Linked DNA regions of Homo sapiens. The protein of the gene in region 1 purifies or fractionates together with the protein of each later gene. This does not show direct contact. Each region holds a gene or a part of one and is shown on either strand. Other genes may lie near its edges.

Region 1 (2,971 bases):
GTATTTTTGATAGATACATACACCTGCCAGGCAGGATTCACAGTGGTTTGTGATTCTCCCCTGACTCCAAGACTCCAAGCCTAATCCCCGCCCCTGACCAGCTTCTCCTCTCTGAAGGGGAATGGACCCCCCAGCTGGTTGCCGGCCCAAGTGTGCAGAGCCGCGGTTGCGCGCTGGGTGGAGGGGTCCCCCAAGCTCCGGTGCTGGTGGGGCCCGAGGATGCTGTGTCCTTGCGGGCCTCCCTAGCGCTACGAGGACACCTCCAGGCGGCCCGCGGGGACAACAACGGCATTGCGGCCTACCACCTAAAGCTCCTGGGAGGACAACGGGGTTGCAGTCTAGTCGACTGTTCAGGGTGTCCCGGACTCCGGGCTTTAACAGTCGGTAAGGACCCAAACACCGCTGTCCACTGCCCCGACTCCCACCCGCAGAGGGCGCGACCAACCCAGCTCCTAGAGCCACACGCTGCCTCTGGGGGCTTGGCGCCCACACTCTCTCTGCTTGTCTTCCCCTGGCCCGAGAAGCCTGTCCAACCGGCCGAGAGCCATTTCCCTACGGGGTCTCGTCCCTCTGCACGTGCCCAGGGCTGGGACCCCAGACACAGACCTGCCCCGGACGAGGGAACGCACGGAGCTTCCCAAGATGGTTTGAATCAGTAACTGACGGCAAAAGCACGCTTGTGCCCGGCGTCTCTCCCAGTGCCCCGTGCCCTTGGGACCCAAAGTCCGAACCGGTAGCCGGGCGCGGTGGCTCACGCCTGGAATCCCAACACTTTGGGAGGCTGAGAATCGTTTGAGCCCAGGAGTTCGAGCCATTCTGGGCAACATAGGGAGACCCATCTCTGCAAATAATAATAATAATAAATAAATAAATAAATAAATAAATAAATAAATAAATAGCGGGCGCGGTTGCGCGCGTCTGTGGTTCCAGCTACTAGGGGAGTTGAGGTGGGAGGATCGCTTGGGCCCAGGAGTTCGAGGCTGCAGTGAGCCAAGATCGCGCCACTGCACTCCAGCCTGGGCGACAGCGAGACCCCGTCACACACAAAAAAACCCCTAGCTTCCTCTTCTCCCAGAATGCAGGAGTTAGGTGAGGACCCTCTGTTCCCTCCAACCCAAGACCTAGGAGTCCGAACACATAACGCCCTCCAGGCGGTGCCAGGATCCCCAGAACTGCTGTCCCCTCAAGAACACACGTCCCCTACGTGGGAGGCCGCGACCAGCGACTCCGCCCACTTCTCCCAGCCGGCTGTTACGTAACTGCAACGACAGCCAGTCAGACGCGGCAGCGCCGGATGGCGGGAGGCGGGAGTTGGAGGCCAAGGGAAGCGCTGGGCGGAAGTGGCTGTGGCTTTGCCCTTTGGCCTTTGCTGGCTGTGTGGCGGCTCCGCGGTTCGCAGGTCGTTCGCTGAGCGTCTCTGCTTAGCCGCGGTCATGAGCCGGCACAGCCGGCTGCAGAGGCAGGTTCTGAGCCTGTACCGCGATCTGCTGCGCGCCGGGCGTGGGAAGCCGGGCGCCGAGGCGCGAGTGCGGGCAGAGTTCCGGCAGCATGCGGGCCTGCCGCGGTCCGACGTGCTGCGCATCGAGTACCTGTACCGCCGCGGGCGGCGCCAGCTGCAGCTGCTACGCTCGGGCCACGCCACCGCCATGGGCGCCTTCGTACGCCCGCGGGCCCCGACCGGGGAGCCTGGCGGCGTGGGTTGCCAGCCTGACGACGGCGACAGTCCAAGGAACCCCCACGACAGCACGGGGGCACCGGAGACCCGCCCCGACGGACGGTGACAGGCGAAGAGCCGAACTCGCTCGATGGCGTGGTGGAGCCAGGAGGCTCGCCTGACTGCATGGGGGGACTGGGGAACCCGCCTAAGGTGAGAGGTCTTAAGAGACTAGCTTGACGAATTGGGGATGTCAGAGACTCCTCCTTGGCGACGCAGGGGGCCTAGAGAGCCCCGTGATGGACGGCAAGGGAGGCCCGCCTTTTCCGATGCTTGGAGACAGGTCGGTGCTCCTCCCCCATGAGGGCTTGGGGCGGCCTGGGACGCTGGCGGGCTGGACAGTGTCAAGCCAAGAGCTACTTGCCCGAAGGTACGGGGAGCCAGGACGACCCCCGGTGGACAGGGAGAGCCTGAGACGCCCTTCTCTTGACCCCTGAGAACATACCCACTTCTGGCTCCTCAAGGAGTCTCCCCTCTCCTGTATTTAACTCTGAGAAGTGCAGACTTTTTGCTGAGAACGTTTTGGGAAGGTGCCCTGATGAGCGGTGAGAAGCCCGGAATCCCCTTCTGGAAAACTTTCCCCCATTAATTGTGACAAGCCAGGACCATGAGGAAGGGGTAGGGGTCTATCACCCTGGTTGATCAACTGAAGACCCCCAAAGGCCCCTACTTGATGGTTTTGAGGGGCAACATTGACTCATTTGCCCCTTCCCTCTCGGAATGTTGGACAAAGGGAATAAAATTGGGGATATGTCTACTTCCCTGTTGGTGGTCTTAAAGCTTTTATATATTTCAGGATTTTTGAAACACCCCCAGCCCCCCTGCCACCACACACACACGCACACAGACACCTGGAAGGGACCATCTGGGAGGTGATAGGTGTGGGGATCTGACTCCTTCCGGAGCCCTGTAGACTGGCACATTGATTGAAGCGGCATAGTTTTCTCCCCTGGGCAGATCTGTGGAGGGGGCTCATCCTGGCTTAACCCCCAAAGATACCCCAGTTGGCTCCCTAATGGAGGGCAAGTGATTTAACATCTTTGTGTGGAAGAGGAAATGGTGGAGCTGAGAACTGGCTCGGAGCCCCTGAGGCAGTAGTGAGGGTCTCAGACCTGGAAATTTCTCAAACCTGGCTGAAGGGTCCAGCCTCAGCTACAGTGAACGACAAGGCCCTGGGGCAGGAGAGGGGAGATGAACCCCATAGATCACAGATATACTCCCTCCGGTGTCCCCATATGGGCCTGCCCTAGACATTCT
Region 2 (3,500 bases), on another chromosome or scaffold:
ATGGTGGCTCACACCTATGTAGTCCCAGCTACTTGGGAGGCTGAGGTTGGAGGATTGCTGGAGCCTGGAAGGCAGAGGTTGCAGTGAGCCAAGATCACACCACTGTACTCCAGCCTGGGCAAGAGAGGGAGGAGACACTGTCTCAAAAAAAAGAAAAAGTAAATTGTAGAACTGTCCACCTAAAGAAAAAAGTCAATTTTACTGAATGATCAATTTTTAAAGCATTATTATCAAAAGGAAGAGAAACACCAGCGAGCCTAGAAGCATTTGAGCAGACCCTCAAGAGACCCATAGCCTGGTCCTGTGGAGAGGTGGTGGGCGGGGTGGGGCCTGTTTGACTCCTGCATTTCATACATCCTACCTCCTGCATGTATTACCTGTTGAAGAAAATATATATAACGTTATAAAAAAAACTTAAAAACTTTTTTCAAGACATCGTAGAAACACAAGAGTTGCAAATCTTGGCTGTGCGCAGTGGCTCACACGTGATCCCAGCACTTTGGGAAGCCAAGGCAGGTGGCTCACCTGAGGTCAGGAGTTCTAGACTGGCCAACATGGTGAAACCCATTTCTACTGAAAATACAAAAAATTAGCCAGGTATGGTGGCATATTCCTGTAGTCCCAGCTACTCTGGAGGCTGAGGCAGGAGGCTTGCTTGAACCCGGAGATGGAGGTTGCAGTGAGCCGAGATGGTGCCACTGACTGCACTCCAACCTGGGCTACAGAACAAAATTCCATCTCAAAAAAAAAAAAATTGCTAATCTTGAAGTATAGTTGAGAGCACATAAGAGTCCAAATCAACAGGTGACTTTCAAGCACACAGCAGCCACCTTCCCCCCGCTGATGTGAAGGGTGGCCGGCCCCTTGGGACCACCATCTGGAAGGTGTCTCTTTTTTCCCTTAGTGGAGTGACATTTATATACACTTAATATATATAAATTTGTATACATTTAATTTTTTTTTTTTTTAAGACAGGGTCTCGCTCTGTTGCCCAGGCTGGAGTGCAGTGGCGCGATCTCGGCTCACTGCAACCTCCACCTTTAGGGTTCAAGCAGTTCTCATGCCTCAGCCTCCCGAGTAGCTGGGATTATAGACGCGTGCCACCATACCCAGATAATTTTTGTGTTTTTAGTGAAACGAGGTTTTGCCATGTTGGCCAGGCTGCTCTTGAATTCCTGACCTCAAGTGATCCACCTACCTTGGCCTCGTAAAGTGCTGGGATTACAGGCGTGAGCCACCGCACCCGGCCTACATTTAATTTTTTAATTTTAGAGATGATTTCTAGTTTATTCACTCTAAGATCACTTAATGGATATCTACTGTGTGCCAACAATTTTGCCTTTATGTTCTTTAAAATTGGCCCCAACTCAACAGATGGCCTCAGCTGTAGGGTGGGCTGGCAGTGTGTTAGCTCAGGAGACTTACAGAGTTTCCAAGCTCCTTGAGTGGCTGTGCTACATGTTTGTGTGTCATTCTAAATCCATTTGGTTTTTTAAAACGGTTTTCAAAAGTTAAATTCTAGCTTTTTTTTGTTTTAGGAGATAAAGTCCCTCCAATTAAACCAAACGCTGGGGAAGAATCTGTCATGAATCTTGACAAATTGAGATTTGCTGATGGAAGCATAAGAACATCGGAACTGCGACTCAGCATGCAGAAGGTAAGAGCCTGGACTCGCTCTGGAGTGAGCAGGAGGGCTGCATACCTGGCCCTGCACTGGTTTTGTTTTTTAAAAACTAGATCTAGGGGGATGCAGGTGCAGTTTTGTGTGGATGTACTGGGAGGTGGTGGAGTCTGGGCTTTTCATGTACCCGTCACACAAGTCGTGTGTGTTGTACCCAGTAGGTAATTGTTCAACCCCACCCCTCCCGCTTTTTGGAGCTCCCAGTCTCTGCTACTCCACTCCATGTGTCCATGTGTACTCACCATTCAGCTTCCACTTCCAAGTGAGAATGTGTGACACTTGACCTTCTGAGTCACTTCACTTAGGATAGTGACCTCCTGTTCCATCCGTGTGGCTGCAGAAGACATGATTGCGTTCTTTTTTTATGGCCGAGTAGTATTTCATGGTATATATGTACCACATTTTCTTCATCTGGTCATCCGTTGATGGGCACTTAGGTTGATTCCATGACTTTGCTGTTGTGACTAGTGCTGCGATAAATACATAAGGCTGCACCAGTATCTGGAGGTAAACAGCGGTAGGACGTACTCCTCACCGTATCAAGAATATGAAAGAGACCAGGAGGCCTGAACTATACAGAAGTGCACTTCTTTTCCACATAGAAGGTCGGCAGACTAGGGCAGAATTAGTGACTGCTTGGCATCCAGGACAGCCTTCTGTGGTTCACTCGTGTGTGCTTGGGTGTGACCTCCGTGACCTGACCATTGCTGGCTGTCATGGATGAGTCACAGCGTGGAGGAGAGGGAACTGCAGGACCGCTGGAGAAGCTCAGTCCCCAGCAGGGCAGCTTTCTCTTAGAGGTTTCCTGGAGTTCAACACAACACTGGTGCTTACATCTCAGGCCCGGATATCGATCATGTCATCATGCCTGGCTTCCAGCAGCTCGGAAATGTCTTTAAGCTGGACTTGTTGCTGCCTCTAAATATACTCGGAAGAGAGGGAGAGTGGGCGGCAGGTGGAAACTGATCTGTGGCCTGTGCTGCTGGGAGTCGGTCCAGTAGGACCATCTGTGATGATGGAAATGTTCCGAGTGTTTGCCATCCAGTATGGCAGCCATTAGCCATGGGGCCGTGGAGAACCTGATACATGGTCAGTCTAAGAAACTGAATTCCTCTAATAACAAGGATTCTTGTCCATGAATGAGATCTCTTGCCTACTATTTGCAAGAATTTCTGTGTATTTTCTAAAAAGTCCATTGCTTTAGTCCTATTCTGAAATAGGTGTCTAACACCTATGTGGTGTTAGACACAGGAGAACAGGTTCCCTGCTGACATTTTCAGAGGCCTGTGCCCTTCAGTCTTCAAGTGAAGCTGGGCTTCAGGGAGGCTTTGTGGAATGGTGAGAAGAACAGTGTGACTAAGGCACAGAAGGCTGAGTGATGCCCTGCAGTACTATTGTAGGGTTGGAGGCCAGCTGGGAAAGAAAGAACCATTGCATTAGAGAATGGGAACATGCCTTCGGATATAGAAATGGCAAATCCATGAGATAGTTTAAAGTGAGAATACTAGAAGCATTCCCACCAAACATGGTGTGTCTTGGTGCCTGCTGTATCCCAGGCTCCACGAGATGCTGGAGTCAGCACTGAACAAACAGAGTTTCCTCTGCTCGTGGAAATGCGTTCCGTTGGGGAAGGGATTTTTCTGCTGAGTCTGGCTATTCATAGTAAGAAGCAAAAAAAAGAAATGAGGTAAATTTTTGGGAACAGGCCCCCAAATGTGGCCCAAAACTGACCATAAACAAAATCTCTGCAGCACTGTGACATGCTCTTGATGGCCATGACGCCCACGCTAGAAGGCTGTTGGTTTACCAGAATGAGGGC

What was found.
Region 2: the proteins of SDHAF1 (region 1) and SDHA purify together in Homo sapiens (affinity purification with mass spectrometry; one large-scale study listed by BioGRID and IntAct). This does not show direct contact.

The regions. Positions count from the first base shown.
Region 1 is NC_000019.10:35,993,842-35,996,812, forward strand, and holds SDHAF1 (succinate dehydrogenase assembly factor 1, mitochondrial), read left to right. Parts: upstream 1-1,346; 5' UTR 1,347-1,433; coding exon 1,434-1,781; 3' UTR 1,782-2,471; downstream 2,472-2,971.
Region 2 is NC_000005.10:238,820-242,319, forward strand, and holds part of SDHA (succinate dehydrogenase [ubiquinone] flavoprotein subunit, mitochondrial), read left to right. Parts: intron 1-1,538; coding exon 1,539-1,657; intron 1,658-3,500. UniProt on the Homo sapiens protein: Flavoprotein (FP) subunit of succinate dehydrogenase (SDH) that is involved in complex II of the mitochondrial electron transport chain and is responsible for transferring electrons from succinate to ubiquinone (coenzyme Q).